Linked DNA regions of Homo sapiens: region 1 is linked to region 2. The links come from fine-mapping of genetic effects on gene expression. A gene starts in region 2. The other region holds a variant in brackets. All regions are shown on one strand. Distances are from middle to middle. Region 1 overlaps PLEKHD1 (pleckstrin homology and coiled-coil domain containing D1). Region 2 holds the start of PLEKHD1 (pleckstrin homology and coiled-coil domain containing D1).

Region 1 (13,738 bases), 47 kb after region 2:
CTCCTCCACTTTGGGGCCGGAGCAGAGGGAAGCTGAAGCCACCTGGAGTCATTGCTTCCCAGATACCTCAAGAAAAATAGAGTCCTTATTCTCTGACTTTTGGGTTGGGAATAGCTTTTCCTTGCCACTTCTAACAGACATCACTCCAGGGATCTCGAATGGAAATACACACTCACCACTCTTTCCTCCAGGTGTGAGGGACAGCCAACCCGCCTGATGGTGGCAGTGACTGGAGCTGCCCTGCAGAGTAGATATTTAGAATTATAGTTTCCTCCAGCCACAGGGAGTAATGTTGGGAGTGTTCCTAAACCCAGTCTTCAGCATGCAAAATGTGTTTTCAGTGGGCTCGATTCATCATAGATTTTGGGTTTGTCAGGACTACATATCAATGAGTGGGGCCAGCGGGCCTTAGAACTTAATTCCCGGTCTGGTGCAGCACATGACCCAGGCTGTGCTAAATCCCAGAGGGTCCCTTGGGATAGAGTGGGGGATCCTGATCTCAGGGTTCCTTTGCTGCCTGTGACTCTTCTCTTCCTCTCTGGTCTCTTCAGGAGCTTGAGCGCCTTAACCAGGTGCTGGAGGCCGAGAAGCAGCAGTTCGAGGAGGTGGTGCAGGAGCTGAGAATGGAGCAGGAGCAGATCAAGAGGTGGTGGTGGTGCCTGGGAATTGGGGGTGCCACTAAGTTAGGGCATGCAGAGCCCACCTTCCCCGTCAGATCTGAGGAGGCCTCCACCTCAGAGATGCTATCTTCCCAAGGCTCCAGGCTTGGGTCTATCCCAGTTTGAGTCTGTCCTCCAAGGCTCCAGGTTTGAGTGTTCCCAGAAGAATCTGTAGACTCCCCTGACCCAGATAAATGGGGTCATTTCTACCCACTAGAGCATAAGGCAATGGAGCATCCCTCCAAGCCACAAAGCCCCCTGCCTTCATGAAAGCCTCTCTCACCCAGGGCCAGACAGGACACGCTGGCCTAGAGGTGCTTGCTGTTGGCCAAGACCCTCAACATTTGCTGTCTTTCCTGCATAGTCCTTTTTGGGAATGTGTCATTTGAGAACTTTAGTACCATGTATTGTTTGTAAACCTAGTTGTACATTATAATCATCTACTGAATTATAATCTTTTAAAGGTAGAGCCTAGAAATCTCTCTCTATATATATACATGTATATATCTATATACATGTATATATGTATATATAAAAATGTTTGTTTGTTTGTTTGTTTTTGAGACAGAGTCTCACTCTGTCACCCAGGCTGGAGTGCAGTGGCACGATCTCGGCTCACTGCAGCCCCGCCTCCTGGGTTCAAGTGATTCTTGTGCCTCAGCCTCCTGAGGAGCTGGGATTACAGACATGTGCCACCATGCTTGGCTAATTTTTGTAATTTTAGCAGAGCCAGGGTTTTGCCATGTTGGCCAGACTGGTCGCCAACACCTGTCCTCAACGATCCTCCCACCTTGGCCTCCCAAAGTGTTGGGATTACAGGTGTGAGCCACCGCACCAGGGCTAGAAATCTATATATTTTTTAAAAACACCCCAGGTGATTCTGAGGCAGCCTCCAGGAATGTGGAGACTGCTGCTGTGGGTGGGGTAGTCATCATCGTCATCCTCATCCTCATCATTATCATCACCACACATGATCAGTGATAGCCCAGAAACTGTTTTCTTATAACAACCTTATCCAAGGGTGTCAATTAACTATGTATTTTGAGGAGGGAAAAACCCAGAGGATCTTACTAAGTAAATAGCCAAGCACCTACTCAGCTTCCAGAATGTTGCCAGGTATTAGAAGGAATAGAAGACAAGTCCACTCCCTTGAAGAGTGGACGTATGATCTGGTTGGGGAAACCAGACTCATACCCAGGAAACATTAGTGTAATAATATGTAATCAGGTGCTAGAAGGCATGGTGCAGATTTCCTGTGTTACGAGAATTGAGACACATGCATGATGCTTGTGGGCTTGAATACAGGGCTGAGTGAGATGGGCCTTGAAAGGTGAGTAGGATTTTGAAAATTGGGCAGGAGAAGGGAAAGACTTTCCAAGTAGGATGAGGGGACACTAGTGTAAAAGCCTAAGGTGACTGAAGCTTGTGAAGAAGGCAGCAAGGAGCTTGTTACTAACCCAAAGAGGGGCCTTAGCCATGTTCTATGTCAGAATGACCATGGGTTCTAGCAAGTGCTGTCCAGAGAAGACAGGGTGAGGCTGGGGCCCCTTTGTTTCTCCAGTGTTTCCCTCTGCCTGTGGGGTGGCCCTAGGTTTATTCCAGGTGACAGATGCATGTGTACCTGGAGCAAGTGACTCCAACCCCATGTGGCCAGGACTTACTTTCAACTCCAGGCCCCTACTGCTGCTGTCAGGGCCCAGCTGTGCAGAGGGGCTGGCCATTCAAGAGCCCTCCTGAGCCCCATCAGGAAGTGAAGCAAAAGCATTTCTAAGTGCAGAGGTGATTGGTGGGGGGTGGGGAGAGTGGGCACTGCCATACCCAGCCCTCTGTCTCCACAGGGAGCTGGAACTGACTGCAAGATGCCTTAAGGGTGTAGAACAAGAGAAAAAGGAACTGAGGCACCTCACGGAGTCCTTGCAGCAGACACTGGAGGTGAGGGGCTGCTGGTGGGTTAGTTGACCAGGTGGCAGGCTGGTTGGTTGGACCACATGACACTGTTTTTTCCAGCAGTGTTTCCCCAGGGGGTGATCTGTAAGAGAAATGGGCATGGAGGGGTGCTGATCTAAAGGGTCTCTTCTCTATGGATCATTGAAAACTCTGGCCGAGGCATGAGGCCCAAAGCAAGAAGTGTCTGTTCTCAGACCTAAAAGGACAAATTCAGGCTTGTCCTTGCTATTACCATGGCCTCAGGAAATCCACCTCTGGTGCTTACATTTTTATACCAGATAGAGGATTGGTTAAGGTGGGCAGTGGAGCTACCCACCGCTTCCTTCTTGTGTCTTGTTCGCTTAGCTGCTCCTGAGTGACATTGAACGTAAAGGGAAATCAACTGCCAGGTCACCATCATCTGATACCACAGAAACTGGGATGGGGTGGGGAGGTGACAAGCCTCAAGGACAAAGTACAAACTCCTTAGCATGGCAAGCAAGTGAAAACTCTGGCCCTGGTCTCCCCTTCCCTCTCGCCTCACTCTTCCCTTCACTGCTCCTCCATGCCCTGCACAGACTCCCAACCCCTGCTCCAAACCGCGGAGCTCAGGTACTCCAAGGAAGCAAGCTCTTTCATGCTCCATACCTTTTCCCACACTGTTCCTTCTACACAGTGTATCATTTCCACCTTTTCTCTGCTTGGAGAACTTCTATTCACCCTTCTAAGTCTCAGCTCAAATATCTCCTCAGTCAAGCTTCTCTGATTTTCAAGGCAGGTATCTACTCTGAGCTCTTGGCTCCCGTGGCATTTTGTACATATTTTATGGGACTTAACATGCTAGGTGTGTTTTCCAAACTATGAATTTCAGTAGACTGTGTCTTCATGGTCTCTCCAAGCCCATCCCCTGAAGTGGGCCTGGCACATATGGTGTATGGCCCATACCTGTGCTGTACGCATGAATTACCTTCAAGGCTGCAAAGGTTTCTTGTCTCCCTTGACTGACTGGAGCCTTGGAGCTTGTGGGGCCTTTATTCATTTATCTTTCCCTGTTTCACATCATGGGAGGTGGTTCCCATGGATATTTTCAACTCTGCTTCTGTGTAATGCCATTGAGTACAAGATCCCAGTCTGATAAATGGAGAGGACATCTTTTTTTTGGAGGTGGGGTGGGGGGTGGTTTGGGGACAGGTTCTAGCTGTGTTGCCAAGGCTGGGATGCAGTGGTGCAATCATAGCTCACTGCAGCCTCGCTCTGTTTGTGAGAGCATCTAAATATGCTCTTGGGCTGGTTCCTGTTGGGTGTTTTTCACGTAAGCCCACTATGTCTCCTCATTCACCCCTGGAGGAACCAGGACCCCAGAAGATCATG[C/T]GACCCCGTTCTAGTAGGTGCCGTCTCCACTGGAAGGCACTTTGGGTTCCTTTATGACTCTTGATGGAGGAGTAACCTTGCCCTGTTGTGGGAGAGATCTGGGCCTTTTAGCTCTGGAGAAGAATGAAGACATTTCAGCGGCCATAGAGGACTGAGAGAGGAGTGGGTCACTCCCCCAAACGGAAAAGCAGGTGAGGGCAGCCACGATGGAGAACCTAAATTGGGCTTTTCTTTTCCTTGCCTCCCTCCATGCCAGGAACTCTCCATAGAGAAGAAGAAAACCCTGGAAATGCTGGAGGAGAACGAGAACCACCTGCAGACACTGGCCAATCAGAGTGAGCAGCCCCCTCCCAGTGGGGGCCTCCATAGCAACCTCCGGCAGATCGAGGAGAAGATGCAGCAGCTCTTAGAGGAGAAGCTCCTGGCAGAGAAGCGGTGAGGGAGCCCCGACCCCTGAAGACACCATTGACTTTGGGGTCTGGGGACTTTCCTCGAACTGGACATCCAGACTCTTGGGTTCTACTTGGCACTGACCAAGTAGGACTCACTCACTTCCTTTTGCCTAGGACTCTGTTTTCCCACCAGGAAAGTGGGAAGAGAACTTTCACTACCCAAAGCTGGCTTGATAATTATCTTGTGCAATGGTGTGAACCATGCAGACTTATTAAGTCCTTGTCACCATGCTTTGTGACAGGCTGGGCAAGTTTTTAAGCCCCCTTTTACAAATGAGGAAATGGAGCCTCAGGGGGGTTGTATGACTTTTCTGAGGTCACAGAACAAGCAACCTCTGGACCCAGGACTCCAGTCTTCTGACTCTAAACCTAGGGCTCCCAGCACTGACCACACCATCAATCTCATCCCCTGGGTGCCTGGACCCACAAAGTTCAGGGGCTCATAAAGCCTGGGATTCAAGGTTTCTCCAGCCCAGGTCTCTAAGAGGAGCTGTCCATCCATTGGCAATCCCATTTGGCGAGTGAGCATTGAGAAAGTGCCTCTTCTGTCCCTACAGGATGAAGGAGAACGAGGAGCGCTCACGGGCCCTGGAGGAGGAGCGTGAGTTCTACTCCAGCCAGTCCCAGGCACTGCAGAACTCGCTGCAGGAGCTGACGGCAGAGAAGCAGCAGGCTGAGCGGGAGCTCAAGGTGCGACCTGGCCTGCTGGTGCCAGGGCCCTTCCCCTTCCCTGGAGACTCCCCTTCCACCCCTGCACTTTACCGGGTAGCTGCATGAATTATCTCTGTCAGTCTGACCAGACAGCCAGGCATGGGGGATGGAGCCACCACGAGGGGAAGCAGCAAGTCTGCTGCATCATTGACAGACACCTGCTGGGTGCAGGTGCCAAGTCCAGTCCATCTGGTTCAAAGGGTAAGACTCAGAAGCGGGATGTGATAACTCCCATCCACGCCCATTGAGCCAGGGGTGACCAAGGAAGGCTTCCAGGGAAGATGGCAGCTACTTCCAGGACCTGACTTCCTTCTCATTTCCCTCTCCTCAACCTCAGGCTGAGGTGAAGGTCCGCATGGACCTGGAGAGGCGTCTCCGGGAGGCAGAAGGGGCCTTGCGAAGCCTGGAACAGGGGCTGAATTCCAAGGTGCGGAATAAGGAGAAGGAGGAGAGGATGCGGGCTGATGTGAGCCATCTGAAAAGTAAGCCCTGCCTCTAGGCCCTGGCCCCCAGCTTTGGCACTCAGCCCCAGATGGGATCCCGGCCCTGTAGAGCCAGGAAACCCACACAGGGTCTGCTAGGCATGAGGTGCTCCCTGGATATTGAAGGGTTTCTTCTCCAGTTACCTGCCTGCAGGCATCTCAGCACCACTGCTTTCTTGTGGCTGTTGGATCTGTGGTGAGAGGAAAGCCAGGAGCTTCTTCCATTTATCAAAAGCTCAGAGCTCTGTTCTCAGCAGACGTGCCCTGAGATGGCTGCAGATTGTGGTTTGAAAGGCAAAGAAAGTCCCCTTCAGCAGGTGGCTCTGGAATCTCGAGGGACGGGGTCAAAATATTTCCCACTCAATCTCACCAGGATCCTTGGGAAGGGAGGGACTGGCTGGGGGTAAGGATGCAGTCGGAACCCCACCCTTCCTGGCCCTGCCGCCACAGGGTTCTTTGAGGAGTGCATCCGGAATGCCGAGCTGGAGGCCAAGATGCCTGTGATCATGAAGAACTCCGTGTACATCCATAAGGCAGCCACTCGCCGCATCAAGAGCTGCCGCTTCCACCGACGCCGGTCCAGCACCTCCTGGAATGACAGTGAGTGTGGCTGTCTGCGTGCCCTGGTGGGATGGTGACAAGGCAGGAAGAGGGCAACATGGGGAGCCAGAAGGGTTGGCCCAGCTCTGAGGCTGGAGAGTGTGGCCTTGAACCTGGCCCCACCATCCTTGGGCAAACGGGTGAATTCTCAGGGCCCTGGGTTTCTCAAAGGATATGGAAGCCCGTGTGTGTGGGAAGGGGCTGGAAGAAGCTTGGCACACATAAAGGAGTGAGGGGGTGGCATGAGGCTGGGGACAGGGCCAGGCCTTCGTGGAGGGAGCACTGTTCACAGGGCTGTTGGGCTCCTGTTTCCCCAGTGAAGCCGTCCCAGTCCTTCATGACCTCCCAGCTGGATGCCAACAACATGGAGGAGCTAAAGGAGGTGGCCAAGCGGCTCAGCAGGGACCAGCGCTTCCGGGAATCCATCTACCACATCATGGCCACCCAGCCTGGAGCCCCCTCGGCACTCTCCCGGGGTGGAAAGTGATGGGCGCTCCTCCCCTGCTTCCCAAGTCTCCCCTGGATGGGCGGGGGAGGGGAAGGGGTGGCAGAGGGAGGCCTCACTCTACCAGCTCCTGGCCTCTCTGGTCTGGAGCCTATGTCTCCTCTGGGCCGGAGCTCCACTTGGGGGCCAGCCTTGCCCTCAAAGGACATGGACGCTGCCTTCCTCATCCTCACCCCACACCCCACCTTTGGGTCCACACCAGGGCCATGCAGGCCTGAGCTGGGTGCTGGTTGTCATGGTGAGGTGAGGACAGGACCTGGTTGTATGTGGAGATTTGTGTCGGTTAGGGAGTGGGGTGGGGAGGTGCTGTCTACCACTGTGCCATCAGGCAGGGTCTGCCCCACTGAGGAAGATGGCAGCCCTCCCTGGTGCCCACTGGACCTCTCTGGGACTCTGCTGCCCTGCCCGTGGTCCTCATGTAGAAAGGCCTTGCCTCCCTACCTTGACATTCCCTTTTCCCCAGGGTTTCCTAACCCTCCCTTTGCTTCTGACACTCAGCAAAATGTCCCTCAGCTGAGACCCCTCATTTACACCACATCATGCTGTGCAGGAGGAAAGGGGCCTAGGACAGCAGCTTCTGGGCTCCTGACATACCACACACCCGCCACAGTGCCGCTTTTCCTGAGCTCAGGCCCTGGCTGTGGGGCCACCCACTGATTCCCCTCCTCCTCTGGTGAGCTCACTCACAGCCTTGGCACCCTGCAAGGGTAGAATGATGGCACCAGTCCCTCCTGCCTGTGTACCTAGGGCCCTGGCTGGGAGCTGGGGCCAGCAGTGATGCTGGGGGCTCCCCCAGAGGACACGTAACAAGCTCAGGAGTGGGCTGGGCACAGTGGCTCATGCCTGTAATCCCAGCACTTTGAGAGGCCGAGGCGGGAGGATTACTTGAAGTCAGGAGTTTGAGACCAGCCTGGCCAATACGGCAAAACCCTGTCTCTACAAAAAATAAAAAAAATAAAATAAATAGCTGGGCATGGTGGTGCATGCCTGTAGTCCCAGCTACTTGGGAGACTGAAATGAGGGGATTGATTGAGCCTGGGAGGTTGAGGCTGCAGTGAGCTGAGATTGTGCCACTGCACTCCAGCCAGGGTAACAGAGCAAGACCCTGTCTCAAACAAACACAAGGAAAACAAGCTCAGGAGTGAAGGAAAGTCACTCTGGTTCCTGCATTATGTACTTCTGGTTGCGCAGGGAGGCAGTGTTCCTGCTGGTCGAGAGATCACAGATATCTCCTTCCCAGCTGCCCCTGCTTCAGTCACCTTGCTGCCTCCTCTCCCTGCAGAGATTTCAGCCTGTGAAGCAATGTGACCATGAACTCTGGCAGCTGGGGACCCTGGGCCTGTGATGAGGCCAGTAGTCATTGGTTGGCTCAGTGTCATTGGGAGTGAAGCTGAAACGCCAATCTGCAGCTTCTGTGGAAGACCACCACCCTCCAGGGGGCTGAAGGGTGTGTCTGTCTCTCACTCATGGACAGACAGACTGCCCAGACCCTCTCCCTGCAGGCCCACCCTCCAAAGCTACCTGAGGCTATTGGCCTCCAGAAAAGGGGTCCACCTGGGATCAGGGTGCTCTTGGACACTGTTGACATTAAAGGTGCTCATTCTTTGCTGCTTGGAAAACCAAGAAGTTCTGAGAGATAAACAGATGGCTTCGGGGCAAGTCCCAGCAAAAAGTGCAAGAACCTGGGAGCCCACAACCTATTCTGTGGGAAGAGGAGCATTGTTGCCTCTAAGAACACATGCACATCTGCTGCTAGGCTGGCCGAGCCCAGGCCGGGCTGCCCTGCTCTTTGCTCAGTGCTTCCTGCCAAAACTAATCTCAGTGGTTCCTTTCAGTGATGGGTGGACTTTGGTGGCTTCATACAGTCTCTGCAGAATCTAGCTGGGGAGAGGGCTGAGTCAGTTTGGAATAAATGCATTTGACAGGGCTGAGCCTAAATGTAAAACTTTAAACGTGTATAACATGCATAAACCTGGAACTTGTTTCTCTAACACGTATGAAGGATGAACTTTGAATTGAAGGGGAATATTTATAAAACCAAGATTACTGTTTCCTTTTTTTTAAAAGAATTAATCATGGCTTGCTTTTAGAGAGATCTTTCATAATTTTCAGATGCATTTGTTTTTCTTGGGCGAGCTATTAACCAGACAGGAAAGTGCTAGTCTTCGTTTGCTTTGTACTGCTGTAACAGAATACCTGAGACTGGGTAATTTATAAGGAACAGAAATGTACTGGCTCACAGATATGGTGGCTAAGACGTCCAATATCAAGGTGCTGGCATCTGGCAAGGACCTTCTTGTTGCATCATCCCATGGTTGACAGGCAAAGAGAGGGTGAGAGAGCAAGAGGGGCCAAACTTATTCTTTTATAACAAACCCACCCCCTCGATAATGACATTAATCCTTTCATAAGGGAGAGTCTTCATGGCCAAATCACCTCTTAAATGTTCCACCTCTTGCGGATCACCTGAGGTCAGGAGTTTGAGACCAGCCTGGCCAATATGGCGAAACCCCACCTGTACTAAAAATACAAAAATTAGCTGGGCGTGGTGGTGGGTGCCTATAGTCCCAGCTACTCAGGAGGCTGAGACAGGAGAATCACTTGAACCTGGGAGGTGGAGGTTGCAGTGAGCCGAGATTGTGCTATTGTACTCCAGCCTGGGCAACATGAGTGAAACTCTGTCTCAGAAAAAAAAAAAAGGTCCCACCTCTTAATATTGTTACAATGGCAATCAAATTTCTTTTTTTAATCCTGCAAACTACTGGGATAGTAATTAAATTTCAGTGTGAGTTTGGGAGGGAACAAACATTCAAACTGTAGCAGTGCTTTTCCATGCACATTTACCAATCGATACTTCCTCCTATTCTCACCCTGTATTTTCCATGCCTCAGGCAAGTCTGAATTATCTTCAGCCAACTGAACAATCCATAAGTGTTTATTCGTTAAAAGCTCACTATGTACCTAGCACTGTAAATAGAAAAATAGCAACATCTCTATATCAAAATACGTAGGAGTGGAAATTACTTAGTGGAGATATGTTGATGTAATTTTTTTAATTTTTAAAAACAAAACTCTTATTCCTTGGCCAATTAAATGCATTTCCTGCAGTATCTATTTAAGTATGTGGTGTGGTCATTGCTAGAGAGATGTTGCTACCTGCAGGCCAAATGTAGAATTATGGAATCTGCTTGTCCTGTCTCTAATACGTACTCCTGCACATGCTTCTCTACATTTGAGGAAGTGCTCCCCACTGCTGCACCTCCTAATAATTAATTGAAAAATCTGTGTTCCAGCCCTGAGGTCCTGGCTGTCCCTGTGTAACAAGGACTATCAGCTAGATTTTCTTCTGATTTTAGCACAGACTAAAGGAACAGGACTGACTGTGCCAGTGAGAATAGCCTCAGGGAGACAAAGGATACCTAGGTTTTTTGTTTAGTGAGGTTTTCCTGTTTGTTTGGTTTTCCTGTTTGTTTTTGTTTTTAAGAGACAGAGTCTCACTCTGTTGCCCAGGCTGGGGTGCAGTGGTGTGATCATGGCTCACTATAACCTCAGACTCCTGGGCTCAAGTGATCCTCCCACCTCAGCCTCCTGAGTAGCTGGGACTACAGACACGTACCATGATGCCCAGCCAGGATACCTAGCTTTATGGCCTGCTAGTTTCAGTATCCCTGCTGGAAACTGACAGTTTTACCTGCTCTGATGTGGGGAAGTGTATGCTTTTGTTTAGTAATCATATAAAGGAGAGCCAGAAATGAGTGAGAAATGGTGATGACTGGATTCTCCTCCTGTTTGGTTTGTGTGCTTTTCCACCAATGATGTTAATGGATGAAGCAAGAGATCGTGAAACACTTGGGTTCTGACCCATTCCCCAGCTCCCAGTCCTTGCAAGAATGCTCTCCCTCTATTCATCTGGAAGGATGTAATTCTTGCCCCCAACCCACTCCAAGCCCACCCAGCTCAGCATAGTCTCAGCAGCCTGTTTGGAGTCCACAATGAATGATGATAGTGGAACAAAACTTGCTCAAGTCTCAGGGAGCCAGTCCAGGTGTGTCAGATTTTATCCAATAGGAAGATAAATAAATCCACTGGGCAAAATAGTCCTGAAGCCCTCAGATAAAGTCCAGCAGTCCCTGTGGAACTGTGTGCTTCTGCAATCAGCCATGTTGACACTTCTCAGACCCCCAGGCCTTGCAAGGTCTCTCCAAAGTCAGAAACTCTGCAGCTTTGACTCTTGGAGAAAAAGCTGCTGACTTCTCTTATCTCACCCCACCCCTGGCAAACAGGAGTTGAGGGATGTCTTTTGCAAGGCTTTAGGAGAGATTACAATGGTTGTTTTTACCTCCTGAAAGAGAGCCACTCCCAGACACACAAAGCAACTGGGAGAAACTGGTTATTCAAACTTCCGAGTGGGTGTGGAATGTTGTGGTGTCAACATCCCCAGGTTCAGTTCTCCTGGCTCGGCACATCCCATCTCCCATTCCCTTCCCTGGACGTGGGCTTCCACCCATGGCTTACAGCTCTTCTGACCCAGAAATGAACTTCACTCCATCTTACTGGGTTAAAGGTGTTCATGGGAAATATAGGAAATACTCTAAGTCCAGGAGTCCTGGGGGGTGGGGACCTTAATAACCAAATCCCTTGTGGTGAACTTTACCTGTCACTGTCAACTCTGAGTATGCCTCTGGCTGAGACTTGACAGTTGGGCAGGGAAGTTGGGGTGAGTCAGAGTTGCTCACAAGGGCTCAACAGCAGGGGCTCCAGGAGACATCCAGGCAGTTTCAGAGCCAGCTGCATTTGGGGGCTCATGCTCTCTTTGCACTCCACCACCCTTCCCCTGGAGGATCTGACACCTGCCTCTGGGCTGAGAGTCCCATTGTGAACAGACTCAGCCTCCCCTTGTAATCCTGGCAAAAGCTGTGGTTGGTGGGCCTTGGAGTGTCCACAAAGAGAGCCTTCCCCCTTGCAGAGCAGTGACTCCAGTGGCAAGACGAGACCTAGGGGAAGAAGTTGTTGTGCACTGTCTGCTGCTGTGGGTGCGGGGGAAGGCTCTGCTTTGCCACTTGCTGGCTCCTGTGGCTTTTGAAAAGTCACTATTTAAAATGTTTACTGTATTTATGCATTTTTAGTAAGCAGGAGAGAAATCCCTTCAATCTTACAGGCTGCTCAGAGCCTTTGTGGTTCTGAAGTTCTATGATTGGGACTTTGCATCCCTGAAATCAACAGAAAATTGGCTGCCACTGCTACAAGTGATCAAGAACATACAGGATGTCAGGTTCTGGCTCAGGTAGCACTCAATGCCATGCCATCCTTAGAACTGTCTATGAAAATATATGTTTGCTTTGAGATGAGAATAGGAAAGATAACTAATTTATCACCTCAAGGAAAAGGTAACTGTGACTAATCATAGTTGCTTGGAAGGCTTTTCTGGTAAAGAAAAGATGCCTATTGTCATGTTCACCCTGTATCTGAGACCATCAGTCAGCATCACTTCTTTCCATCTCTGAGAAACAGGGTTTGCTCTGTCACCCAGGCTGGAGTGCACTAGTATAATCATAACTCACTGTAGCCTCCTGGGCTTGAGCAATCCTCCTGCCTCAGCCTCCTAAGTTGTAGGATTACCAGTGTGAGCCACCATGCCACTTCTTTCCATCTTCGTTCAACACGTATTTATTGTGATTCTATTGCATGAAGTCAAGTGTCTACCACGTGCTTATCTCTTTCACTTACTGGCTCTTAAATTGTGGTGAAATACACACAACTTAACATTTACCATTTTAACTATTAATATTTCTAAGTGTACAGAGGCTGAGCACAGTGGCTCACACCTGTAATCCCATCACTTTGGGAGGCTGAGGTGGGTGGATCACTTGAGGCCAGGAGTTTGAGACCAGCCTGGGCAACATGGTGAAACTCCATCTCTACTAAAAATACAAAAGTTAGCCGAGCGTGGTGGCGCCCACCTGTAATCCCAGTTACTTGGGAGGCTGAGGCACAGGAATCACTTGAACCCAGGAGGCGGGGGTTGCAATGAGCCGAGATTGTGCCACTGTATTCCAGCCTGGGCAACAGAATGAGACTCCATCTCAAAATACATACATATATATATATATATATATACACATACACACACATGTATATATTTCTTCTTTTTTTTTTTTTTTTTGAGACGGAGCCTTGCTCTGTCGCCCAGGCTGGAGTACAGTGGCACGAACTCGGCTCACTGCAAGCTCCGCCTCCCGGGTTCACGCGTCTCCTGTCTCAGCCTCCTGAGTAACTGGGACTACAGGCACCTGCCACAACGCCTGGCTAATTTTTGTATTTCTTTAGAAGAGACGGGGTTTCACCATGTTAGTCAGGATGGTCTCGATCTCCTGACCTCGTGATCCGCCCACTTCGGCCTCCCCAAGTGCTGGGATTACAGGCGTGAGCCACCGTGCCCGGCCACACATGTATATATTTATAAGTGTAATATAATATATGCCAGTAGTGTTAAATATGTTCACATTTTGTGCAACCACTCTCCAGAACTTTTTCATCTTGTAAAACTCAAACTCTGTATCTATTAGACACTCCCCATTCTCCTAACCCCCAGCCCCTGGCAATCACCATTCTACTTTCTGTCTCTATGATTTTTGACTACTGTATATACCTTATATAAGTGGAATTATACAGCATTGGTCTTTTTCTGTGCCTGGCTTGTTTCACTTACGATAACGTCCTCAAGATTCATCCATGTTGTAGCGTATGTCAGAATCTCCTTCCTTTTTAAAGTTGGATAATGTCCTATCAGTTTTCAGGAGAAAACCTGATTGAAATCTCATTCTTCTGACAAATTGTTGGCCAATGGGGAGGGCCCTGGATGTCTTAAAGGACAAGAGAGTCACAGCCAAAGGAAACTGGATCCCTACCCTTTCCTTTTCCAGGTTTCTCCCTCCCCACTGTGGCCTGGTGTTAGGGATGCTTTGGTGTTCACGTCTATCTTCTTCCCAGCAGATGGCAGCATGCTCCGAGCTGGCTTGCAAATTCCAATGG
Region 2 (13,957 bases):
CTTTTTTTAAAAAGAGATTGGAGATCTCGTTCTGTCATCCAGGCTGGAGTGTGGTGGTGTAATCACAGCTCAATGTGACCTCGAGTTCCTGGGCTCAGTTGATCCTCCCACCTCAGCCTCCCAACGCTCTGGGATTATAGGTATGAGCCACTGTTCCTGGTTAGCTCCCTTTTGATATATGAAGACAAGAGTGTTTTAAAGTAACTTGACCAAAGTCTTCTCATTGAGTAAAGATGGAGCTAACGCTGGTGACCAGCCTTTGGCTCCTAGTCCAGTGAACTGCTAATTCTGTTCTAGATGAGGGGCCAGCATCTTGGCTTTCCCTTAGATGTTCTGGGAGAGTGTGTGAGATCATAGCAATAAATGGCTATGGGCTTATTGGCCAGACTCAACATATCTGCCTCTTACCATTCCCAAAATATACTTGCTCTTAGAAGCCAAATTAATGTATATTCTAATTCATGCATCACCCACAAGAGGGAGCACTGAATACCTTCAGGGTGTCTGCTGAGTGTGCTGCCCACAGCGATGCCGGTGGGTACCAAGAGCTAATGTTAGTGCGGTAGAGTAGCTGGCAGGCTGACAGGGTGGCATGGTTTTCCAGCCACTCCCAAAAACGCTTCTGCATTGGCAACATTGGGTGTGAGTGATTACTGGGCAGTGAGAGGGTGGGGTGGGGTAGAAGCCTAGCAAGAGGCTGGCCCTGCTGATGAGAACACAGCCCATCTAGTCTAGTGCCAGGGAGCTCAAGTGGAGAGAGACTTTGAAGCGGGGGCCTGCTTATGTGGCTTCAGGCTGTGCTTCCCCGCAAGTGAGGCTTCCCACAGGGGCCCCGGGGGACCCTACTCCCCAGCGCACCCAGAGATGGGTCAACTAGTCTTCTGTGCCCACACACCCTTGTGGCTCTCCCTCCCCCATAGTCCTTTGGCCTACTGGCTTTGCACCTTCATGTGGTACCTTGTGCCCCACCTCAACTCTCTCCTGGGTTGCCCTGGGGGAAACCCAGTCCTGCGCAGGTAGAGGAGCCCAAGGCCCATCGTGGCCTTAGGAAATACAATCAAAATAGGAATATAATTCAACCAAGGGGAGGAGGAAGTGGCATCAGAAAAGGCATCACTGCCGGGTGGAATGGCTCACGCCTATAATCCCAGCGTTTTGGGGAGCCGAGGCAGGTGGATCACTTGAGGTCAGGAGTTCGAGACCAGCCTGGCCAACATGGCAAAATCCTGTCTCTACTAAAAATACAAAAATTAGCTGCATGTGGTGGTGTGTGCCTGTAATCCCAACTATTCCAGAGGCTGAGGCATGAGAATCCCCTGAACCCAGGAGGTGGAAGTTGCAGTGAGCCGAGATCGAGGCACTGCATTCCAGCCTGGGTGACAGAGTGAGACTCTGTCTCAAAAAAAAAAAAAAAAAAAAATGGCATCACTGCTGGGTGCAATGGATCATGCCTGTAATCCCAGCAACAGGAGGATCTTTCGAGCCCAGTAGTTCAACGCTAGCATGGCCAACATAGCAAGATCCCTAGGCCCTATTTCAAAAAAAAAAAAAAGTTTATTAGTTAGACGTTTTGGCATGTACCTGTAATCCCAGCTACTTGGGAGGCCGAGGAGAGAGGATTGCTTGAGCTCAGGAGTTCCAGGCTCAGTGAACTATGATGGCATCACTGCACTCTAGCCTGAGCAACCCTATCTCTTAAAATAATAATAATAATGTTTTAAAAGAAAACTAAAAGACATCACTAAAGAAGTCTTTGGGCTGAATGTTGAAGAGGGATTTTGGGAATAAGAGAAGCATTGTAGACTGAGGAGACAGCAAGTGAGAAGATGTGAAGAGCATGGGACCTTCCCAGGCTAGCAGAACCAGCGTGGCTGGAGCAGAGGGCCAGGGGAATGACTGTGAGTGAGCGCGGACAGGGGCCAGGGACTAGACTGTGAAGGGTATTTGTATTAGTCTGTTTTCACGCTGCTGATAAAGCCATACCTGAGACTGGGCAATTTACAAAAGAAAGAGGTTTATTGGACTTACAGTTCCATGCGGCTGGGGAAGCCTCACAATCATGGCGGAAGGTGAAAGGCATGTCTCATATGGCAGCAGACAAGAGAAGAGGGCTTGGGCGGGGAAACTCCCCTTTATTTTATTTATTTATTTATTTATTTATTTATTTAGAGACAATGTCTCCCTCTGGTGTCACCCAGGCTGGAGTGCAGTGGCACAGTCTCAGCTCACTGCAACCTCTGCCTCCCAGGTTCAAGCAATTCTCCCGCCTCAGCCTCCTAAGTAGCTAGGATTACAGGCATGTGCCACCACAGCCTGGCTAATTTTTGGATTTTTAGTAGAGATGGGGTTTCACCACATTGGTCAGGCTGGCCCTTTTTAAATCATCAGATCTGATGAGACTTATTCACTATCACGAGAACAGCACAGGAAAGACCCACCCCCATGATTCAACTACCTCCCACTGGCTTGCTCCTGCAACACATGGGAATTCAAGATGAGATTTGGGTGGAGACACAGCCAAACCATATCATTCTGCCCCTGGCCCCTCCCAAATCTCATGTACTCACATTTCAAAACCAAACATGCCTTCCCAACAGTCCCCCAGGTCTTAACTCATTTCCGCATTAACTCAGAAGTCCACAGTCCAAAATCTCATCTGAGACAAGGCAAGTCCCTTCCACTTATGAGCCTGTAAAATCAAAAGCAGGTTAGTTATTTCCTAGATACTATGGGGGTACAAGCATTGGGTAAATACAGCCATTCCAAATGGGAGAAATTGGCCAAAACAAAGTGGCTACAGGCCCCAGGCAAATCTGAAATCCAGCAGGGCAGTCAAATCTTAGAGCTCCAAAACGATCTCCTTTGACTCCATGTCTCGCATCCAGGTCACACTGATGCAAGAGGTAGGTTCCCATAGTCTTAGGCAGCTCCGCCCCTGTGGCTCTGCAGGGTACAGCCCCCCTCCTGGCTGCCTTCACTGGCTGGTGTTGAGTATCTGAAGCTTTTCCTGGTGCATGGTGCAAGCTGTCAGTGGATCTACCATTCTGGGGTCTGACCCTCTTCTCACAGCTCCACTAGGCAATGTCCCAGTAGGGACTCTATGTGGGGGTTCCTGCCCCACATTTCCCTTCTGCACTGCCCTAGCAGAAATTCTCCATGAGAACCCTGCCCCTGCAGCAAACTTCTGCCTGGGCATCCAGGTGTTTCCATACATCTGAAATGTAGGCAGAGGCTCCCAAACCTCAATTCTTGACTTCTCTGCACTTGCAGGCTCAACACCATGTGGAAGTTGCCAAGGCCTGAGGCTTGTGCCCTCTGAAGCCATGGCCCAAGCTCTACGTTGTCCCCTTTCAGCCCTGGCTGGAGTGGCTGGGATGCAGGGCACCAAGTCCCTAGGCTGCACACAGGAGACCCTGGGACCGGCCCATGAAACCACTTTTTCCTCCTAGGCCTCTGGGCTTGTGATGGGAGGGGCTGCTGTGAAGACCTCTGACATGCCCTGGAGACATTTTCCCCATTGTCTTGGGGATTAACATTTGGCTCCTCATTACTTATGCAAATCTCCATAGCTGGCTTGGATTTTCTTTTCTATCACATTATCAGGCTGCAAATTTTCTGAACTTTCATGTTCTGCTTCCTTTACAGAACTGAATGTCTTTAACAGCACCCAAGTCACCTCTTGAATGCTTTGCTACTTAGAGATTTCTTCCACCAGATACCCTAAATCTTCTCTCTCAAGTTCAAAGTTCCACAAATCTCTAGGGCAGGGGCAAAATGCTACCAGTTTCTTTATTAAAATATAACAAGAGTCACCTTTGCTCCAGTTCCCAACAAGTTCCTCATCTCCATCTGAGACCACCTCAGCCTGGACCTTATTGTTCATATCACTATCAGCATTTTTGCCAAAGCCATTCAACAAATTTCTAGGAACTTCCAAACTTTCCCACATTTTCCTGTCTTCTTCTGAGCCCTCCAAACCGTTCCAACCTCTGTCTGTTACCCAGTTCCAAAGTCACTTCCACATTTTTGGGTAACTTTTCAGCAGCACCCTACTCTACTGGTACAAACTTTTGAGTGCGGACAGGGCCAGGGACTAGACTGTGAAGGGTGTTTGTATTAGCCTGGTTTTACGTCGCTGATAAAGACATACCTGAGACTGGGCAATTTACAAAAGAAAGAGGTTTATTGGACTTACAGTTCCATGTGGCTGGGGAGACCTCACAATCATGGTAGAAGGTGAAAGGCATGTCTCACGTGGTGACAGATGAGAGAAGAGAGCTCGTGCAGGGAAACTCCCCTTTTTAAAACCATCAGATCTGGTGAGACTTATTCACTATCATGAGAACAGCACTGGAAAGACCTTCCTCCATGATTCAACTACCTCCCACTAGTACTCTCCCACAACACATGGGAATTCAATATAATATTTGGGTGGGGACACAGCCAAACCGTATCAGTGTTAGAGCCAAAGTCAGGAGGTAGGAGCTGGGGTCAAGGGAATGGGACCCAGCAGAGGGCTTTACACAAGAGACTTACAGGATCAGCTTGGGGCCTTGAAAAGAGCACGCATGATGGTGGGGAGCTGGATTATTTAGGGAGTCAGCTGTTGGTGGGAAGAGTCACCAGAAAATGGTATTGCACAGTCCTAGTGAGAAAGGTGAATATGAGCCAGGCATGGTGGTGTGGACCTGTGGTCCCAGCTACTCCGGAGGCCAGAGCAGGAGGATCGCTTGAGCCTAGGAGTTAGAGGCCAGCCTGGGCAACATAGGAAGACCCCATCTCTAAAAAAATAATAATAATAACAAAAAAAGTTGGACATGAAGCAAGTTGAGAGTGGAAGGAGGAGTTCCTTCAGAACACGAAAGCCCAGAGAAGCCCAGTGATTGTCTTTAGTTCATACAGCTGGTGGCAGAGCCTGGACTTAAACTTATGTTAACACTAGAAGCAGGTGACCAATCTGCCATCTAGAGATTGCTTTCACATACGTTCCCAACCCCCCCGCCACACACACAGACTATTTTATAGAGGAGGGGAAGTTGAGGACCTGATAGGTCAGTCTCCATTTGTTTGGCAAATTGAAACAGGAAATGGCAGCACCTGAACAGAGGCTAAGCGAGGACAAACCGATTCAGTAAGCATTTGCTGAGCACCCACCACATGCCCTGGACTATGTCTTCAAGGACCTCCAAGTTTGAAAGGGAAGAAAACACATACAGAAAAACTCCAAACAAGGCAGACAGACGTGTGTTAGAATGGGCGATGGACAAAGATCCACGGGAAGACAGAGGAGGGTATGGTTTCAGCTGAAATCGGTGCCACAGCCTTGTGCAATCTAGGGCAGGAGCCTGAATGGTGGAAGGAGGCTTGGAGGAGGGAAAGGGGTTCCATGGATGACACTTGGTGCTGCAGCAGGGCCTGGCCTGGAGCTCAGGTCTTTCTGCCTCTTCTGCTTCTTGGCCCCTCAGGGATACTTGGGCTGGGCCCAGCTGACAGACAGATGCCGGTGCTGAAGCCAGAGTCGCAGCATTCCTGGGTCCTTCACTTGGCACAAGCCTGGAAACAAGTAGACACGACGTGGCCTGCCTGAGGGTGGGGTCAGGGACAGAGGGGCAGGGAGCTGAGGAGTTGGCACTATGGGAAGAGCCACTTTTGTCCAGGTTGCTGGGAGCTTCTGTGGCTCATGGTAGTCCAATAACGATGACTCCAGGTGACCTCTGTCACCATTTTCTATTAGGCAATGTTTCCTGCCCATTCCTGGTTTTAGTGGGCTAAATAATACCCTTGTGTATAAGATTTTTTTTTTTCTTTTTTGAGACAGAGTCTTGCTCTTGTCTCCCAGGCTGGAGTGCAATGGCACAATCTTGGCTTACTGCAACCTCTGCCTCCCAGGCTCAAGCAAGTCACCTGCCTCAGCCTCCTGAATAGCTGGGATTACAGGCATGCGCCACTATGCCTGGCTAATTTCTGTATTTTCAGCAGAGATGGAGTTTCGCCATGTTGGCCAGGCTGGTCTCAAACTCCTGACCTGAAGTGATCCACCCATCTCGGCCTCCCAAAATGTTGGAATTACAGGCATGGGCCACCACGCGCAGCCTGAAATATAAGATTGAAGAGATGGATTCCCTACGGTATTCACACATTTCCTTACCATGGGCTAGTCACTTAAAATGGCCATGCTAATATTTGTTTTATGGAAAAGTGGGGACTATCACATCTGCCTGCAGACTACGGATAAAACAATATTATAAAAATGTATGTTCAAGCCTGGGCAAGATAGTGAGACCTCATCTCTTAAAATAAATAAATAAATAAAAAATAGCAGGATGTGGTGGCGTGCATCTGTAGTCCCAGCTACTCAGGAGGCTGAGATGGGAGGATCACCTGAGCTCAGGAGGTCGAGGCTGCAGTGAGCTATGATCACGCCACTGTACTCCAGCCTGGGTCAGAGTGATACCCTGTCTCTAACAACAACAACAAAAAAATATGTTCATTAGGAGTCTATCCCTGAGCACAGCTAAAATTCTGTAGCACTCGTAGAATTGCTTTGTCAGTTCTACAGGAAATTGAGCCCTAGGTGAGTTGGCAATTGAGAAAAATTCCTGAAAAGAGAGGAAAGACTGAAAGTGGTCTAGTATTTCCTAGACTGCACTTCACTTCACATGACAGTGTGCTGCAAGGTGAAGGGGAAGGGCTAAGGACTCAGGCCAAACTTCAGCTTGTCACTTTCCCTCATTCAACACATATTTAGGACCTATATCATGTTCTGGGAAATTACTAGCTATGTGACTTACGTAGACAACGCTTTTGAACTTTATTTTTCTCATCTGGAAAACTAAAAATAATATGTATGTACCTCATAGGTCTATAGTAAAAATTAAATGAAATGTGTCTGTTGTAAATAATGTATTAGAACATCAGCTCTGTGTCTGAGCAGTGTAGGGCACTTAGGGATCCTGAGTTTTCACCCCTGACTGGTCTCACTTACTTCCTGGCAAGATTGGGCGGCCCTGACCCACTTGGTCTAGCGCACAGGATTGGCACCTGGCTTGTTCTGTCTTCTGTAGAACTCAGCCAGGATTTCAGCACGCCTACCAGCTGAGGTAGAGAACACAATGGAAGCAGAAACAGCTTCTCCCAAGGCTGACCTGGTGCAGTCTGGGCTGGTTAGTCAAGGGGAACAGAAACCACTCAAGTATCTAGTGGTTGATCAAACTCCAGCTGTTTGCCTCAGAGCCTTCCTTTCACCCAGCCTTAACTGCTATTATCTGAGGTCTATTCATACGTCCTGTATGCAGAGGGAATAGGTAAAGATTGGTTGCTCTTTGTCATTGAAGAAACCTGTGCTTCACTTCTCTTATTGAAGGAATCAGCCTTCCCCAGGATTATCTGGGCTCACTGGGCCCTACCGTGCAGGACTTCTTTTGAATGATTGCAGGTATCCTGCCTTTCTCTGGCCCACATGGCTCACAAACTCACCACTAGTCCTCATCACCAGCAGCCATAAGCTGCAACTGACCTGACTCAGCAGAAAAGAAATGAATGTACTAAAAGGATATTGGGAGAGCCAGGGAGCCAGGCCTGAGGCAAAGCTTCCAGGAACCATATCTAAGAAGTGCTGCAGAAGCTGTTGGATGAGAATGCTGCAGCTGCCCCTGAGTTCTTGCTGCTGCTGTTTGTGCACTACTAGGAGCCCACCTCCCCATGACTGCTGTGGTACCCACCACACATGCTGCTGCCACCCCAGGAGCACACAGCTGTCACCCAAGGCACGTCAGATGCATGTGCCACCATGTTCCCTTGAAAAGTGCAAGCCTGTGTATGCTTTTTCCTCACATTTGTTACCTGCAACTCAAAGTCAGGGGCCCTTGACTGGTGAACTCCAGACCACAGGCTCCTAACACAAGTTTTCTAGCTTTCATCTTAGAAAAGCAGGACACCTGTAATCCCAGCATTTTGGGAGGCTGAGGTGGGAAGATCACTTGTGGCCAGGAATTCAAGACCAGCCTGGGCAACATAATGAGACCCCCATCTCTCTAAAAAAAAAAAAAGAAAGAAAGAAAAAAAGAAAGAAAGAAAAAAGAAAGAAAAGAAAAGCAGGGCTCCTAAAGTGGGAAGATTTCCAAGCATTAGACCATGTGTCAGAAATAGACAAAAAATATACAGAAAATGTCCACTTTGTACTCTGGCCCCGGGCTCTCATCATCTTCCCAGTCCCACCTCCTCCCACCTGATGGAGCCAAGCCCCGGGCCCTGTGTTAAGGCTTGGCCTGAGATGTTCTGCATGGGGGCCTGAGCCATGAGAGAAGTGCAAGGAATTCAGATGGGCACTTCTTGACAGTGAGCAACAAGGGGATGCTGTCTGAGCTTGGGAACCCCAGAGGGGGTTAAGGGAAGAGTACCAGGGTGATGATTAGCTAGAGTCATAAAATGGGGAGATCTAGCATGGCCTTGGGGAACATCTAGTGGGCGTCACACATCCAAATGCCTGCAGAGGGGCCAGGCAGGTCAGACAATAGGGGATGATGGGGCCTGTGGGGATGCGCCTTTAGGCATTACATTCAAAGACTTAAGTCTACTGTGCAGAGGTGGTAAGAATGATACAAGTGGTTGTTGTTGGGGGGCTGATTGACTATAAAGGGGCATGAAGAAACTTTCTGCAGGTGATGGAAATGTTCTGTCTGTTGCTTTGGGTGGGGTTACATCTTATATACCTTCATCAAAGAAATAACTTAGATGTGTGCATTTTACCATGAAGTATACCTCAATTTAAAAACTTGGGGCAAATTCATAAAGCAATGTGGATCTGGCTCTCGGGCTAACCATTTGTAAACTTCTGTTGCAATCCGACTTCCAGAGGCGTCCTTGGCTCCTCATCTTGGAAAAGCGCGACTGCGGCGTGGTCTGGCGGGCGGCCGCTCACTGCGCGGTCTCCACGCCTGGCAGGTGGCGCGGGGCAGGCAGCTGTGCCAGCCTAGCATTTCCACCTGCCGGGAGGAGGCGGTCCCCTGGGGCCCGGCCGGCATCTCCCTGGCCTGAAAATGAGCCGGTCACCCCAAACGCCAACTCCGAAAGGAGCGGAAGCGGATGGAACAGCTGGTCCCAGGGAGCGCGGGCCAGGCGCGCAGATAAATCACGGACACACACTGCACGGATAGCTCCAGACTGGCGTTGAGTGCCAAATGCCGACACAGACACGGTCAGGTTCCAGGAAGAGAAATCCGATCCGATGCGCGCTAGGCGGCGGCGGCGGAGCACAGTGAAACCCACCTGAGGGGGAAGGGTTGGGGGGAACCCAATCTTGATGGAGCCCCTCCCCATGCGGGCACTTTGGGCACTTCCTGAAGTCCTACCTGGCCACCCGCCTGCCCGGGGCATCAGGCATCGCCACTTCACTGGGGAGAAAAGCCAGACCGCCGCAGTTCACGGAGCGGTAGGAATTGCGGTGGAATTCCAGGCCGGAGTGTGTGACCCTACGCCCTAGCTCCGTCCTCTCCTCCACCCCGAGGCGAGCAGGTGTCTGCAGGAGTGCCTCCAACCCCATTGCAAAGCGGACGTGGCCCTCGTCTCGATGTCGGCGCTGCTCGCCGAGAGGGACCCCGGGGTGGTGTTGGGCGCGCGGGGCGGGGACGGGGACGCGCTGCGGCCAAGTCCCCGGGCCCTGCGACCCGCAGGGACCTTCTGGACGCACGGAGCCCGGCCCTCCAGCCGGCGCCCGCCCTGATTGGCGCCCGAGGCCGGCCTCCCGCCGGCTCACCTGCCACTCCCAGCCAATCGGGGCCACCAGAATTGGGGCTGTCGCCGGGGGGGTGGGTGGCTAGGGCGGGAGGGGAGGAGATGCTGCCGGCCCGAGGCTGAGCCACCCTCCCCGCGGAGTTCCCGCCCGGCCCTCTGCAATCCGGAGCCCAAGCCGCCGGCTACGCGCCCTGCGCCCCCTTGGTGCCGCGTCCAGTGCCCAGCGCGCTTTGATGCTGCAGCTCCGGGCCGGGCCGCTCTGCTTCTCTGCTCGCTGGGACGCTCTCCGACGGCTCCGCCCTCGCCTCTCGCCCCGAGTCCCTGCTGACCCCGGGGAGGTGGGGTCCGGGCCGGGCACAGCCCCGCTGAGGCAGGATGTTCACGTCCAAGTCCAACTCGGTGTCGCCCTCGCCGTCCCTGGAGCAGGCTGACTCGGACGCCCTGGATATCAGCACCAAAGTGCAGCTCTACGGCGTGCTGTGGAAGAGGCCTTTCGGCAGGCCGTCGGCCAAGTGGTCCCGGCGGTGAGTGCGCCCCCGCGCCCCAAGGAGACCGCCGGGGAGAGAGCCTGGGCGTCGTTACCCCTCCCACCCCCTCCAGTCGCCGTCGTGCCTCTGCTTTCCTGTGTGACCTTGGCGTCACCCCTTTTCACTCTACACTGGCTCCCGCAGGAAAATGTGGACCATAGTCTGGGCCGGGAGAATGGAGATGGGGCCCCTGCCCTGGGGCGGTGGCAAATTCTCTATGGAATGAACCTGACCCTCGAGTGGGAATGTTGGGTGTGGGCAGAAGAGACCGTGGTCGGGGTGGGATCCCAGCTAGGTCAGATCAGGCCAGACTGAGGGGAGGCAGAAACTCCATCTCTAGCCAAAGATGCCCCCAACCCCGGGACCCCCACTGTCAATTCCATCGTCTTCACAACCCCTGACCCAGGCCGCGAGGACCGGGCCTGAGTGTCTCCCTCCCGCCAACCACCCACCCTTAAGACGGAGAGGGACCTGGCCCTTCTGAAAGGCTCAGGCTAAGGAGGGAGGAAGGGCCAGGAAGGGTGCTTGTCCATGGGGAAGTGACCTTGGCAACCCCTCCAACTGTCCCTTGAAATAATTTTTTTAAAAGTGAGCACAGGGAAGAGAGATTCTAGTGCTTCAGACGGAGGAGCTGGAAAGGAGGGAGGCAGCTGGAGTGAAGGAGGGGATAGATTGGTTCTGCCAAGGATTGATCCTCTGAAAGGGGTGGTGGAGAGAGACAGGGTAGTCCCAACCATCCTTCAGCCCCAGCTGCCTGGTCCCCAACTCAGACGCGACTCCGCGGACATCGGTAGCCACTCTCCACTTACAAATTAGCCTGGGAGGTATTGAGGGAAGAGGGAGTTCACAGCCCTGGACTTGCAGGAAGCTCCCAACTGGCTGCAGGTGCTGTGGGCCATTTTCTGGACAGTTTCCACTCTCCAGTCAATTTCAGTTCTGAGATTCACTACTGGTATGGCCTGGAGAATGCAGACCCTGTCCAGCCCTTCCGCGGAGGTGTGACCCTTCCAGGAAACCAGGGGTATCCAGATGCCCCTTCCCCATCCCACACTCTATGAGTCTGCCCCTGAGCAGAGGGGGCCTCCAATGTTCCCAGGACCACAGATCATGTGGATGTGGTAGTGGTGGGTGCTGATGTTCTGTTCTGATGAATAATTTAATGTTTCTATAAGACCGCAGAACAAATGGAGCTGTGGACAGTAGCTCACATTTTATATCTCTGGTTTCATGTTGTTTTGTTGCTTCTGACAGGTTTCTCTCTGGGATTTAATGGGATACAGGCTTCTTGAGTTCCTCCAAAGTTCAGCTTATCTCTGACCCCCTAAATGAAGGCTTGGAGCAACATGGAGTGTATTTGGGGAGCTTCCAGTATTGTGCTATGTGAGCTACAGCCCCCAGGGCCAGGAGAGCTGGGGTGGAAAGGCTGTGTGTAGATTCAAGCACAATTAGCAGAATATCTCCCCCCACCACCCATCTTTCTTCTGCCTCAGCAGCTCCAGATAGTTAATCTTTCTTTTCTATTGGGTCTGGCTGCTGTTCTGGGTCCTGTCAACCAAGACTTCTCTTGCCAGACATTTTCACCTGACAGCATCCCTAGAAAATGCTAGGTGCTTGTGACCCCCAGGGTATGTCCCCTGGTCCTCCCCTTCACCACTGCAGGTACATTGGGAAACTGGTCTCTGCACCTACAGTTGATTCCAGGGCTAGGAAGTGTCAGGAGTACAGGGCATAGGCCCCCAGCTAAAAGCACAATGGTAGTGCCAAGGAGGCTTGGAGAGGTTTAGTGTCCCCCACCCAGAGACTCCATCTTCTCCTCCATCCACTACCGTGGCCCCCAAAGCCACCCGAAACGATGCAATCAGAGTCTGAGCAGTATGTATGCTCTGCTAATACAGCTAAAAGTCAAGTCCTTTAGCCTCCTTCCAAGGAGATTGTTACCTGGGTTCCCTTCCTTTGTAGGAATTTCAGAGCTGCCACTGTGCAAAGACTACCTGGGGCTCAAGAAAGAACTAACATCCCACCTGCCCATTCTAGGCCTCTGTGTTCTCAGTTCTGGGAATACACAACACACACACACACACACACACACACACACACACACACACACGCTATTTAGTCTTGGGTCAGTGACAGAGCCAGCCAGAGAGGGCCTGGGTGTGGGGGAGAAAGATGCTCAGCTCAGCCCCCTCTCACTTCCCATCAGGGCCCCCTGGGCCCCAGCTTCCCATTTGTAAAGTAGAGTCTGTGGGCTCAGCTAATTAGCAGCCACAGGAAGACTTGGGGACAGAGCAGCTGAGGGCCGCCACCGCAGAGCCTTGCCATTAGGGCGATCAATGCCCTGGCTGGAGCAGTTAAGGGGAGGGGGCCTGAAAAGTCTCAGCACTGCATTAGTAAAGAATAAGCTGGAGAGAACTGGCTGTGGCCAGCTGGGTTCTATAAAACCTTTTCCACTCAGGGTCTGTCTTAGGACCTGTGCCTCCAGCTTCCACCGCCCAAGCAGCCCTGCCTGCCTGGGGTGGGAAGGTGCCCTTGAGCTGAAGGGTCAACTTATTTCCTGGGGGCAACAAAAGGGGAAGGGAATCAAAAGCATTAATTAGCAGAGATCAGATAATCTGGGAGAGATGTCTAGAAGGGAAGGCTGTTGACTGTGTCCTCATCTTGGTCTGTGAGTGGAGATGGAAGTGCAAAGACCTGGGCAGTGCCAGGACAAAGAGGAAGGGGGTGGGAAATCTCAGCCTCAGCCAGTGTCATGCTGTGAGGGCTTGGCCTAGACTAATTCTTTCCTGAGATTGAATGCTTTTTCCAGCATTCTATTCCACCTCCCAAATCCCTGCTGAACACTTCCCAAGGCCGGAACCCCTAAGGAGGAGGACCCACCCACTTCCTTCCTGCAACAGGAGCATCTATAATCCTCCTCACCCCTTCTCCTCCCCAGGGGCAGGGTAGCCAGTAGGGCCTGAACCGAGCTCCGCAGTTTACTCTTGCAGAGCATCGGTGGGTCCCTGACTTAGGGAGCTAAGATTCATTGTGTCCACCTGGTGCCAGTGGAGCCATGGAGACAGTGGCCATGTGTCCTAAATCTCAGGCCACAACCTGTACAGTGTGTAAAGATTATCTGTGCAGATGAGGGTCACCATGCCAAAAAGACTAGAGGAGACTTTCTTCCCACAGGGATTTGGAGCCCAGGGTTTTGACTTTGGTGCTCAGCACTGCTTCCCAGAGGTGACACCAATGCCGAGCTTTCCCAGAGCAGAGAGAAGAGCCTATCATGTCAGCTTCACGGCACTAGGCTCAGCCTCACCCTGGTGACCCTGGGGTTTGGTCTCACTTTCTGGCACCCCTGGCATTTCCCTCAGCTGGCTGTGTGAGGTATCCCACAAGCAGAATTGTAACATTTCCTCTGTGGAGGGTGCCTGAAGGACCCCCTTTAAAAAATAAACTTCTATTCTTCAAACTTCTACCAGAGTGGCAACATAGGGTGTGGGGAACAGTGACCAGGTGGCAGTTGAGGGGCAGGGATCTTCTGCTAATGTGTGTGGGAAGTTGGGGAGGGGACAGAGCAGAGGAGCTCTTTCAGCATTGATAAAGAAGAAGGACTTGGGGAACAGTGTCTCTGCCTCCAGAAAAAAAAGTGACCAAATTACTTTATTCTGAAGATTTCATAGTGTTTTTCACTCTCTGGCTCCTTGTTCCAGAGC

Evidence for each region. PIP is the estimated chance that this variant, and not a neighbour inherited with it, causes the effect. A credible set is the group of variants that fine-mapping cannot tell apart.
Region 1: its variant is the best candidate, but not a certain one, in a credible set for the expression of PLEKHD1 in lung (TOPMed, PIP 0.71).

What each region holds. Positions count from the first base shown.
Region 1 is chr14:69,521,732-69,535,469 of GRCh38, forward strand. PLEKHD1 (pleckstrin homology and coiled-coil domain containing D1) reads left to right here. Exons shown (of 13, transcript NM_001161498.2): 7 at 552-646; 8 at 2,498-2,591; 9 at 4,213-4,391; 10 at 4,966-5,098; 11 at 5,457-5,601; 12 at 6,052-6,201; 13 at 6,519-9,820. The coding sequence ends at 6,688. Among named protein-coding and RNA genes, the nearest start is that of PLEKHD1, 44 kb to the left of the region's middle. RefSeq lists an enhancer at 7,884-8,053. The variant C/T (reference allele first, on the strand shown) is at 3,957.
Region 2 is chr14:69,474,859-69,488,815 of GRCh38, forward strand. PLEKHD1 (pleckstrin homology and coiled-coil domain containing D1) reads left to right here and starts at 9,870. Exons shown (of 13, transcript NM_001161498.2): 1 at 9,870-10,256. The coding sequence starts at 10,108.